3 linked regions of the Homo sapiens genome follow. The protein of the gene in region 2 purifies or fractionates together with the protein of the main gene of each other region. This does not show direct contact. Each region holds a gene or a part of one and is shown on either strand. Other genes may lie near its edges.

Region 1 (3,656 bases), on a different chromosome or scaffold from region 2:
GTGTACTCTTTCATTTGGTGCTGGTTGCTATGAGAACCACCGGCATGTCCCCTCCAGAAGCAGTCCTGACAGAGCTGGTAATTGTGACACTGTTGGCATCGGTAGCGAAATCCCATCATACTCTCACTGTGGCAGTAGGAACACTCAACCGGATGGAAGACTAAGGGGGAAGTAAGTGAAGAAAAACCAAGAAAACAAAAGTATGAACCAGAAGAAGGAAAAATACAGCCTTACAGGAATTGCACCTTTCTTCTCTGCACCACGATTTCAGATGATAGTTGATTTGGGCTCAGAGAAACATTTAGTTCATTCCTGGAATCTTACAACCCTTTTCAATCATGCCTGTGGGGAAATGAAATGAAATGGGATGGAGAAGAGGTGTCCTTTTAACAACAAAAATCTCTGTAATGCCATTTGCTCTTTCTATTCCCATCTCTCACATTACAAGAATTTAAATTAGCCAAACAGACTTGCCTTTACCCCAAACTGCTCTCTGTCTCCAGGAGACCAGCACAGCTCACTGGAAGACTCAGAAGCACAAGGGGTGAATGCTGATTGTCCAGTGGGAAGAGAGCGAATATCAGAGACACGGAGAATGAGAGGAAGAAAAAAGAAAGGAAGATGGGCAGAGAATGGAAAACTGGTGTGGATGAGATAATTAAGTTATTTTTTAAAAAATAGAGTGACTAATGGCTTACTTAACGAGTGGTGTTGCCTACATCTGACAAACAGATTTTTTTTTCTTTCCTGAGGCAGGTGTATAGGGCCCTAAAAAAGATGTGCAAATTATCTGAAAACAGTTCTAAATAATTCAAATGCCTCAAGAGACGGTTAACTTTCTTTGGTAGGAAATTTGAATTATAAAGCAGGCAAAGCAAAATACTAGATTTGAAGCAAAGTAAAATATTAGATTTAAGTGATCAAATCCAAGTAATTGTCTACATGCTATGAGCTAGATACTAAAACAACAATAACAATTCTTGCCTTTGGTAAAGCTATTCTCCGGCCTAACCAGTCAGGAAAAACAATGAAAATAATAATAAATGAAGATAAAAAGCAAAGTGTAAAAACAAAGACATAACTAGCTCTGGACGCATTGTCTTCTAAACAAGTGTCATAACCTTTCTTCCCGGCTCTTGAGAAAGACTAGAGTGGGACTTCAATCTAGGGACAACTGTTCTGGGATGGTGCCTAAGAAACTGATCTCCTGCAGCAGGAAATGCTGAGAGAGAACGAAAGAAATTATAGCTTTATGATTGGAAAATGACTAGTTCTAGAACTGTAAACAGTAACGTGAACTCATTTTGCATAATAACATGGACCTTGATTGCTCTTCGCTTCTGCATATGGATAAACATAAAAAAACTATGATTGTTAGTGATTGCAAAAAAATAAAATAAATTCATTCTTTAAATTTTCTCCATGAGAAAAACAGGATAAATTCATAACTTCTAACTAACAGATAAATAAGGGCAGATGCTAAAAATTCTGAATGATAATTTAAAATTAAGCTAACTTTAGCTGCAATGTATATTAAAGAAATACACAGAAGTTGAGTAATATATAGAGACTTAAGTTAAATCTCAGTAAGAGATAGAGACTAAATTATTTCCTCGTCAAGTCTGGAGAAATTTCAGAGTTACATTGAACAATAAGTAGGAACACCTAAAGATTAGATGGAGGCACTGAACTGCTCCATGTTTAATTTTCTGTAAATTTTGCCCCAAATGGTATTTCATATTTAAATCTGGATATGCCAACAGTAGTTCCTTTTATCCTAGAAATACTTGCTTTAAAAAAAGACATGATACGAAAGTTATTTTACTCTTATCTTTAACGTAAGTACAACTATTGAAAGCTCACAATCTGGAACATATGACTAAAGATTAACAGGGTGCTATCATCTATTTTTTTTTCTCATTTCTCCCACCTATTTCTGGCTGAGTGCCTGGGAAGAAATAATCAGTACCGTGTATGCAAATATGAGAAATTCGGATCTAAAACAAATACAAAATAATGTCACACTCCTTGTTGAAGTTCGCCTTCTATCGTGCCAAGTCTTTTAACCACACCTGACTTGTAATTGAGAAGAAGACCATGAGATTTATTTTTGGAACTGACAGTCCTAATTTTTCAGTGGTCCTTTAAGGCCTTCCCGAACAGGGAGATGGGTTAGTTCTACCCTAAACAAAACTAAGAGCCACTAAATAGGCTTCCCTAAAACAACAGCCTGGGCTTACTAACTGTAGAACTAATGGCCTAATTTCAATAATTTAAAAAATCACCTTTGCTCCTTAGTAACTACTCACCATTTTCCACATTTGCTAGTCGATGCAGAAGAGGCAACCAGACCAGACACTGCGGGGGAGGATCTGACATAAGCGTGTCCAAGAAACCATTTAACGTGACTTTTTTCTGCATAAAAAAACCCCCCATAAATTTAGGACAGAGAATCATCTCAATTTACCTGCTATGTAAATATCATATCATTTGAGACTGAAACAAAAGAGCACTCAATAAATGTCTAATATCTGAAGAAACAGAACTTGCCAAATGTGTTATTAAACTAGTTTAGAACTGAAAACATCGTTTGCTTTTTATACCTAAGCAGACATAGGACTGAATTCTCTCCACTGAGGCTGAGTCAATAGTATCACCAGGAGAAAAACAATTCCAAGAGCATCATTTGTATATATGAAAGACAGTATAAAAATAATGAAGCAAAATAAAGAATGGAAATTCTCCATGGAATTTTACTCAAGAACGCATCATAGCTCACTCTACAATTTTCCTGTCAGTCAGTCTTCTAAATTTATAGAACAACTTCCCTTCTGAGCTTCCTCAACTTCCTTAAGTACTAAATATTTAGTGGTTAATGTGAATGGTTCTGTTATACAAGAGCAGGAGGGAATCCTGTTAGGACAGAACCATCTACATTTTTAAAAATTTGCTCCTTTTATTACTTTATATATAATTCCTCTCAATTCAGTCTGCTTCTTTCTCACTATCCAGGTCCTTTTGGATGTACAAAAGGAATGCATTGTATCTATAAGTTTCTTTCAAAATGATAAAAGTAAGAAAGCTATATTAATACATGTACTGTAATGGTATAAATAAAAAAATACATATTTATATGCAAAAATCACTACTTGAAATTTTGAACTAGAATATCAAAGGGGATGGGATAATTTTATTTATTTATTTTTTAAAATATTTTATTTATTTGCTTGAAAGATGGGGTCTCATTATGTTGCCCAGGCTGGACTCTAACTCCTGGTCTCAAGCTGTCTTCCTACCTCCTCCTACCTACCTCAGACTCTTGAGTAGCTGTTAATAGCCAATTCATTAAGTACAAAAATAAACTGGTCTTATTATTTTTGTGTTACCTCTTTTCATATTTGAAATGATCTTATTCATTTTGACTATTTGTCATACTTGCTAAAAAGCACTCCTGGAAGTTTCCAACAATGCTATTATGATTTCAACATGTATAAGTTGCTTATCATTAAGGATATATATAAATCATATAACAGAACAGTCTATAGGATATTTCAAAAGGAATTTTGAACATGTCAACATCACATATAATTCTTGAACACATAGGTCCTTTTTTCTCTTTTTTTTTTCTTTTAGAGACAGGATCTCACTCTGCTGCC
Region 2 (3,163 bases):
AATCGAGGGTGCGGGGAGGAACCCTCGATGGCAGGTCCCATGCCTGGCCCTGAGACACATCTCTAAGGTACAAAGGCAAACTCTAAAAGCTCAAACCAGTTTCTTCCCAGCCCCACCCACCACCCCAACGACAGTAGAAAGCTTTTATTACGATCATTAACATGGTCTTGATTTTTCTATCACAAACAGAGCCTAGCTGGCTCGTGAGCTCGATGAAGTGCGGTCCCAGAGCACCCTGCTTGCCCAGGGACTGTGGTGCCCACACACACGGGGAGAGGCCAGTCCCACCTCGGGGAACCCTCTGGAGCCTTCAGCCAGCTGCTGCATCCTGGCAGACCCATGGAATTCTAATTGTTCTTTTTGCCCCCTGTGAATTAAAAAAAAATTTTTTCAATTGCATGGTAATTTTTTTTTTTTGTAAACAGTCTCACCCAAGCTAAGGTCAAGAAAGCTGAAACCCGGTGTTTCTCCCCAAGTTAAAAACCAGCAAGGAGCACCGCAGCTAGCCAGCCTTGGACAGCAGAGGCTGGGCCCACCATCGAGCTGAGCTGCTTCCCCGCAGGCTGCAGCTCCATCTTCAGGCAGAAGCCCTGGCCCTCGTGGCCTGGCCCCCCAGGAGGCCACTTCTTTGCCCTGAGCCTGTGATAGCCTCTGAGGCCGGGGGCTGCCGCTCTGGCTGCCCCCTCTCCGGCCAAACTTCTGAGGCCGTTGCAAAGAAACATAAAACGACTAAAACGCTACTGAGTCTGCAACCCAGGGCACTGGGCCCGTTCTGCTCAAACCCGGGGCCCCTGAGCGACCGCGGGGCCTCTCCCCAGCCGGGGGTGGATGCTGCATGTCGGCCAAGGTTGGCTCAGATCTCTGACTCCCGTCTGTAGGGCCGCTGCTCCAGGACCCCGCCGCCAGCCTGGAGTCTGTCAAAGTCATGCCTGGCCTGGGGGCTGAGGCCGTCCCGGCTTCGGCCGTCCTGGTCTCCGTCCGCCTCATCCTCCTCGTCACGGCTCAGGAAGGCCAGCTCGTTCTCGTAGCAGAAGGAGTTGGCGCTGGGCAGCAGGAACTTGTTCTCTACCAGATCCTTCGCACTGCAGCGGGGCGTAGAGGGCACCTCATAGGTCTTGTGGAAGTGCGAGTAGTCAATCTTGTACTGGTTCTTCTCCTCGAAGAGCACGGGCTCAAAGCGGTGACCCCACAGGATCTCATTGGCCAGGTAGGAGCTGCGGGCCTGGGTGGTCATGGCTGTGGCCTCCACCATGCCTTCCAGGATGACCACGATCTCAAAGTCGTCCGTCTCCAGGTCCTGCCGGCTGATGCCGAAGAGCGGGCTGGCCTCGTCAATCTCATGCAAGATGGTGATGGGCGACACCAGAAAGATGCGGTCCAGGCCCTTGTCGAAGCCCACATCGATGTCGATCTGGTCCAGCGGGATGTACTCGCCCTCCTCGGTGACCCGCGGCTTGATGAGCTGCGCGCGCACATGGGCCTCCACAATGTGGCTCTTGCGCAGGTTACCCACACGCCACATGAGGCAGAGCTTGCCGTCACGCAGGGCCACCACGGCGTTGTGGCTGAACAGCAGCGTCTGTGCCCGCTTCTTGGGCCTTGCCATCTTGGCCATGATGGCACCAATCATGAAGGAGTCGATGATGCAGCCCACGATGGACTGGGCCACCACCATGAAGACGGCCACCGGGCACTCCTCCGTCACACAGCGCAGCCCGTAGCCGATGGTGGTCTGCGTCTCGATGGAGAAGAGGAAGGCCGCCATGAAGCCGTGCACCTGCATCACACAGGGTGTGCGGCCCCGGCCCTCAGCCGGCTCCAGGTCACCGTGTGCCACCGCGATGACCCAGAAGATGATGCCGAACAGCAGCCAGGAGGCAAGGAAGGCCAGCGAGAAGATGAGCAGCATGTACCGCCAGCGGATGTCCACACAGGTGGTGAACATGTCAGCCAGGTAGCGCTGTGACTTCTCGTCCATGTTGGCGAACTCAATGTTGCACTGGCCATTCTTCTTGACGAAGCGGTTGCGGCACCTGCGCCGCGTGTGCACCTTGCCGTTGCCGAAGCCGTTGGCGCCCGACATGGTGACCAGGTGCAGCCCGTCCTCCTCCGATGACACGATGCTGTAGGGGTTGGCCCGGCTGGCCGCGGTCATCCCGGGGGTTGGGGGACCCTGGCTCGCCCCCAGGCTAGCTCCAGGCAGGGCGGCTCCTGCAACAGAGACGACAGCATGTCTGGCTGGGCTGGTGGCTCCGGGCTCCTCTACCCCCATCCCAGGGCCCCCAGACGTGACTGGAGGACGCTTCCACCCTGATTGACCCACGATCGTGCTCTGGTCTTGCCCAAGCCAGCTCCCCACTCCGCCTTCCCAGTGCGAATGGCCACCCCCTTCGGGCCCCCAGCAGCTCCAGCCAAAAACCTCAGCTCCACACCTCACTCCCACACTGAGGGCTCTGAAGAGTCTATTTAGGATCCGACCCCTTCTCCCACCCTCAAGGCCTGAATCTAACAGTGCCTGCCCAGCCAGTTCGGGGCACAACTTGCCAGCCTCTCTGCCTCTGCCCATGGCCCCCCAGTCTCCATGGCAGCCACAGAGGGCCTGTGGAAGCTGAGTCGGTGCCTATCCCTCCCCTGCTCAATGCCAGAGGCCCCCCAGGACATGCAGGACCTGCACAGGGAAGCTCCTGACCCCTCGGACCTCACCTCCCAGCCTCCTCCAGCGGACTCCCCTTCCGGCCACAGCCCCTGGCCCCAGGCTGTCCCTCAAACCCACCCTGGACACCCTCCCGCAAGACATCCTGCCACTGCCTCGCCACCTTGGCACCAGAGGCCTCCTTGTGCCCCAGGAAGACCCATGTCCCATCCCTGCTATATCCACAGCACTGCCCCTTCTAAGGGCACAATGGCGGCAGCAATAACAATAACGTAGCCAGGGGCACTCAACCATCAACCCCACCCTGAGACCACCACTCCCTAAGGGTAGCACATTTTCTTTTTTTCTTTTCTTTCTTTTTTTCTTTTTTAGACAGAATCTTCCTCTCGTCACCTAGGCTGGAATGCAATGGTGCGATTTCAGCTCACTGCCATCTCCGCCTCCTGGGTTCAAGCGATTCTCCTGCCTCAGCTTCCTGAGCAGCTGGGATTATAGGTGCCCGCCACCACA
Region 3 (3,656 bases), on a different chromosome or scaffold from region 2:
CATTTATCTTACTATACCAAATCATGCTCTAAATGCAAAACAATTAACTATTTGAAAAAAGAAAACAGCAAGTGCATGCTTTCAAATCAATGTGATAAGACTAATTTAATAAATCAACAATGGGAGGAAATCAGTCATCATGCTCTTTACAAGCACACTCAATATCTTCTGTGATTAATAGAATTACTCAAAATGCCATTTTATAATTCATGGGAACATAAGCTCTGCATGCAGCTTTCATTTCTACAGAAAGTAGCAATTAGGGTTTTATTCACAGGTTTAATTCGAGCGAAAAAATAATAAATATCAGGGAATTTCTAAAAATTTCATTCCATTGGAAAATTTTGACCTTCTCTAAAATATTTCATAAGGACCAGAATTGGAACTATTTGACAGGTTTAAAAAGTTATTGAATATGTTGGTATAGATTGGTTTGGCGAGTAGTGTTGACGATTTTGATTAATCACTTATAGCCTGTATTTGCAAGAATGAACTACATTTCATTATCTAGTTTGTTTAAAATTGGGAATTTAAACCTTGCTGTACTTTATGTTTTATGTTGAATTTTCAAACCTTCTGAGGAGTCAGATCGAACGCTGCTTTTTTCAAAGGTAGCAAGATACAGCCACGTGAATTAGAGTTGAGCCATGCCTTATTTGTGACATAACTCACATCTTTGCCAGGAGAAAGGGCTTGGTGGTCATCAATCTGAAACATCTTTCATTTCCTAAGCACAAAGTGATGTATAATATGTAAAATATTTAGAGATGTCATGTAGATTTCTTTAGAGGAATGCCAGATGACCATTAAACACTGCTATTCAGTAGGACACACACCATCATACGACCAGTGTAGATACTTCTGAAAGCTTGCTCACAGTTGGAAGGGTGTGAGTTACATAGCGTTCCGATTTTCTAGACACATTATGGTGTGCTTTTGCACTCCCTCGAGGAAGAGGCCTTTTCTGTTTACTATATTTATCAGCAGTTACCTTCAGAACACCTGCTGGCCAATTAGACTTTCCTTGTGGATTCCTTGCAGGCACAATATTGTGTAATTACATTCTCAGCAGTGTTTATTTGGTTGACTATAGGGGGAAAGGTTTTATTCTCTTATTTGCATGTAGAAAGCAGACTCCATCTACCTGCTAGGTGGATCCACCTTCATAACTACATAGCTCAAAAGAGTGATTTACAAGGAAAAGCTCAGCAATTAAAAGTATTAGAAAATCAGCCATGCATGCAAATAGTGATTATTGCAAAGCATATACAAAAAAAAAGTTTCACAAAACTTTCCACATGTCTAGTCTCAAGAACTTCCTAGATATTATTATAGAAAAATTAAGTTTATCCTGCTCTTCCTGCACAAACCAGATGAGTCACCTGGGGACTTGAAGCCATACACTACACTGCTTAATATGAAAGTAGCAGTTCTTATTCAAGGGCACTAAGATTATTTTTTAGGATTCCTACATAAATGAAATTTGACTTTGTAGATAGTTGCAAAGAGTGACTTTCTTAAAGGCATAATAAAGTTTTAAAAATAAATAAAAGAATCTAGGGCTTATTAAACAAGTATCAGGTTACCAAAAAATTGGACCTAATGCAAGCAAAATCAATTAAGTAAAGAAAGCAGGAATAATGGATACATGTAGATCGGTTATTCTGGCAGTTAGGCAGGTTTTTTTCAATATAAAGTAGCTGATAAAAATAAAGCACATTAGAAAATTAAATGTATAAGTACTATGAATGCATTCCCATCTTTCAATTACTACTTAGAAAAATATGTCTTTAAAAAGCCATAACTTTTAAGCAACACATCGTTCAAAATCAAATACCACTCAAAAATGTTAAATAAAGCATACACATTGAACAGAAAAAGTGAGTTTCTGATGACTAAGTCTGAAGCAGATTTTATTAATGCACATTATATTTTACCCTATATATTAAAAAAAAACCACAGGCAAGGTATATTATAATTTTAGCTCTAATACCTTGAGAGCATTATGTTTTGTCTGTAACAGCTGCTGTTTTATCTTTATTTCCTCTCGCTTTCTCTCATCTGTGATTCTTTGTTGTAAGTTGTCTCCTCTTTGCAACAATTCTTTTACAGTACCCTCATTGTCTTCATTCTGATCAAAAACAACAAGTACAGTCTTCATTTTGGTTTTTAAAAAGCTGTACATTGTTAACAGAGATAATAAGACATGTTATTTAAACACACACAAAAATCCAATTTAAAACTTTCATGGAATGCTATTATAAGATACTGTGCTCATAGCCTTTCTTTTACATTTGGTACTTGAGGTTTCAAAATAAGTTTCCTCCCATCTAGTTGTAAAGAACACATTTTTAGGGGCACCTGTAGAAAGATGGGGGAGTGTGGTACTTCATCATGTCAGACAAGTCATGAATTACTGTGAAAGTATTCTTTTGGCTTTTTTAGTGTAGTTCTAGAAATTAAAACATTAGAGAAATGAGCTAAAGTTATCATTTATAATGTTAACTGATCCATAAAGGAATACAGATGTGTATTTGTGACTGAGATAACAGCAAATCTGAAAATATTAACACACAACTACATGAAAATATTTTGATTTAAATGTACACTAATTCCTATCTAATAACTCCTGCTTCATTTCTGAAACCTAAATGCTCAATATTAATAGGAGAAATATCAGGATATTAATAAAAATCATGTGCTAAGTTACCATCAAATAATTTCTAAAATATGTCATATATGCATGTTAATTTAAATACGATCAAATAATACTAAAATATGGACTGGAAAATGGCTTTAAACATTTTCAATGGGTATTTTGTTCCTTTAGGCTGCAAGAACAATATCTTAATTTTCTTTACTTAGAAATAAAATGTTTTGAATAAATGCTGGTCTAATATAGTCGCATATATGACCATGTGATTTTTCACCTTTAGTTTTCTTTCTTTCAACTCAGAATGTGAAAACTTTGTATCAAGTAGTCTCACATTGTAATGGTACTCAAGGTACACTGATGACATAAGGAAAACAAATAATAAATTTCAAAAGTCACAAGTATTTGTATGTGTGTATTACAATTCAAGGAATTAGATGTTATATATTTAAATCTATAATGCATAAACTTCAACACGCAACTGAGGACTGATTCATTTTGTATGGGGGAAAGGGATTATTTTTGTCAGAGACTGGTCAATAATCTAAAGAAACATACGGCATAATATAGACACATTATATACTTATCATAATATAGACACATCATATACTTATAGTCTGTAAAAGACTTTACTTATTTTAAAAGGTGTTGTAAAAGTCTGTAGCATTTTCTAGGGCTGAGGACAAAAACAACAAAAAATTAAAAAACCCACTTCACTTCTTTCCCTATACCAGTTGAGGGCTCTAGGGCAGAGTTGGGGTCAGCCCAAGAGGTAATCAGTACTTTTTTTCATCTTGGTGCCCTCTAGTTTCTTCTTTGACCTGAAGTAGAGATTGCTGTAACTCAGCAACTTGGAAAGCCTCTTCCGTCTTTCCACAAGCTGAGTTGGCAAGGCCACCAAACCCCATACATGGGGAGTATTGATTGAGGCAGCTCCAGGAAGTGGGAACTAAGATTGGTGGGAATAGTTCTCCTATTGCTTCACACACTTATTACCTAAAAT

What was found.
Region 1: the proteins of KCNJ12 (region 2) and DTNA purify together in Homo sapiens (affinity purification with mass spectrometry, with the first as the bait; one study listed by BioGRID). This does not show direct contact.
Region 3: the proteins of KCNJ12 (region 2) and DMD purify together in Homo sapiens (affinity purification with mass spectrometry, with the first as the bait; one study listed by BioGRID). This does not show direct contact.

The regions. Positions count from the first base shown.
Region 1 is NC_000018.10:34,814,668-34,818,323, reverse strand, and holds part of DTNA (dystrobrevin alpha), read right to left. Parts: intron 2,416-3,656; coding exon 2,310-2,415; intron 363-2,309; exon of another isoform or gene 161-362; coding exon 1-160. UniProt on the Homo sapiens protein: May be involved in the formation and stability of synapses as well as being involved in the clustering of nicotinic acetylcholine receptors.
Region 2 is NC_000017.11:21,414,335-21,417,497, reverse strand, and holds part of KCNJ12 (ATP-sensitive inward rectifier potassium channel 12), read right to left. Parts: intron 2,212-3,163; 5' UTR 2,156-2,211; coding exon 854-2,155; 3' UTR 1-853. UniProt on the Homo sapiens protein: Inward rectifying potassium channel that probably participates in controlling the resting membrane potential in electrically excitable cells. Probably participates in establishing action potential waveform and excitability of neuronal and muscle tissues.
Region 3 is NC_000023.11:32,343,950-32,347,605, forward strand, and holds part of DMD (dystrophin), read right to left. Parts: intron 2,132-3,656; coding exon 1,994-2,131; intron 1-1,993. UniProt on the Homo sapiens protein: Anchors the extracellular matrix to the cytoskeleton via F-actin. Ligand for dystroglycan.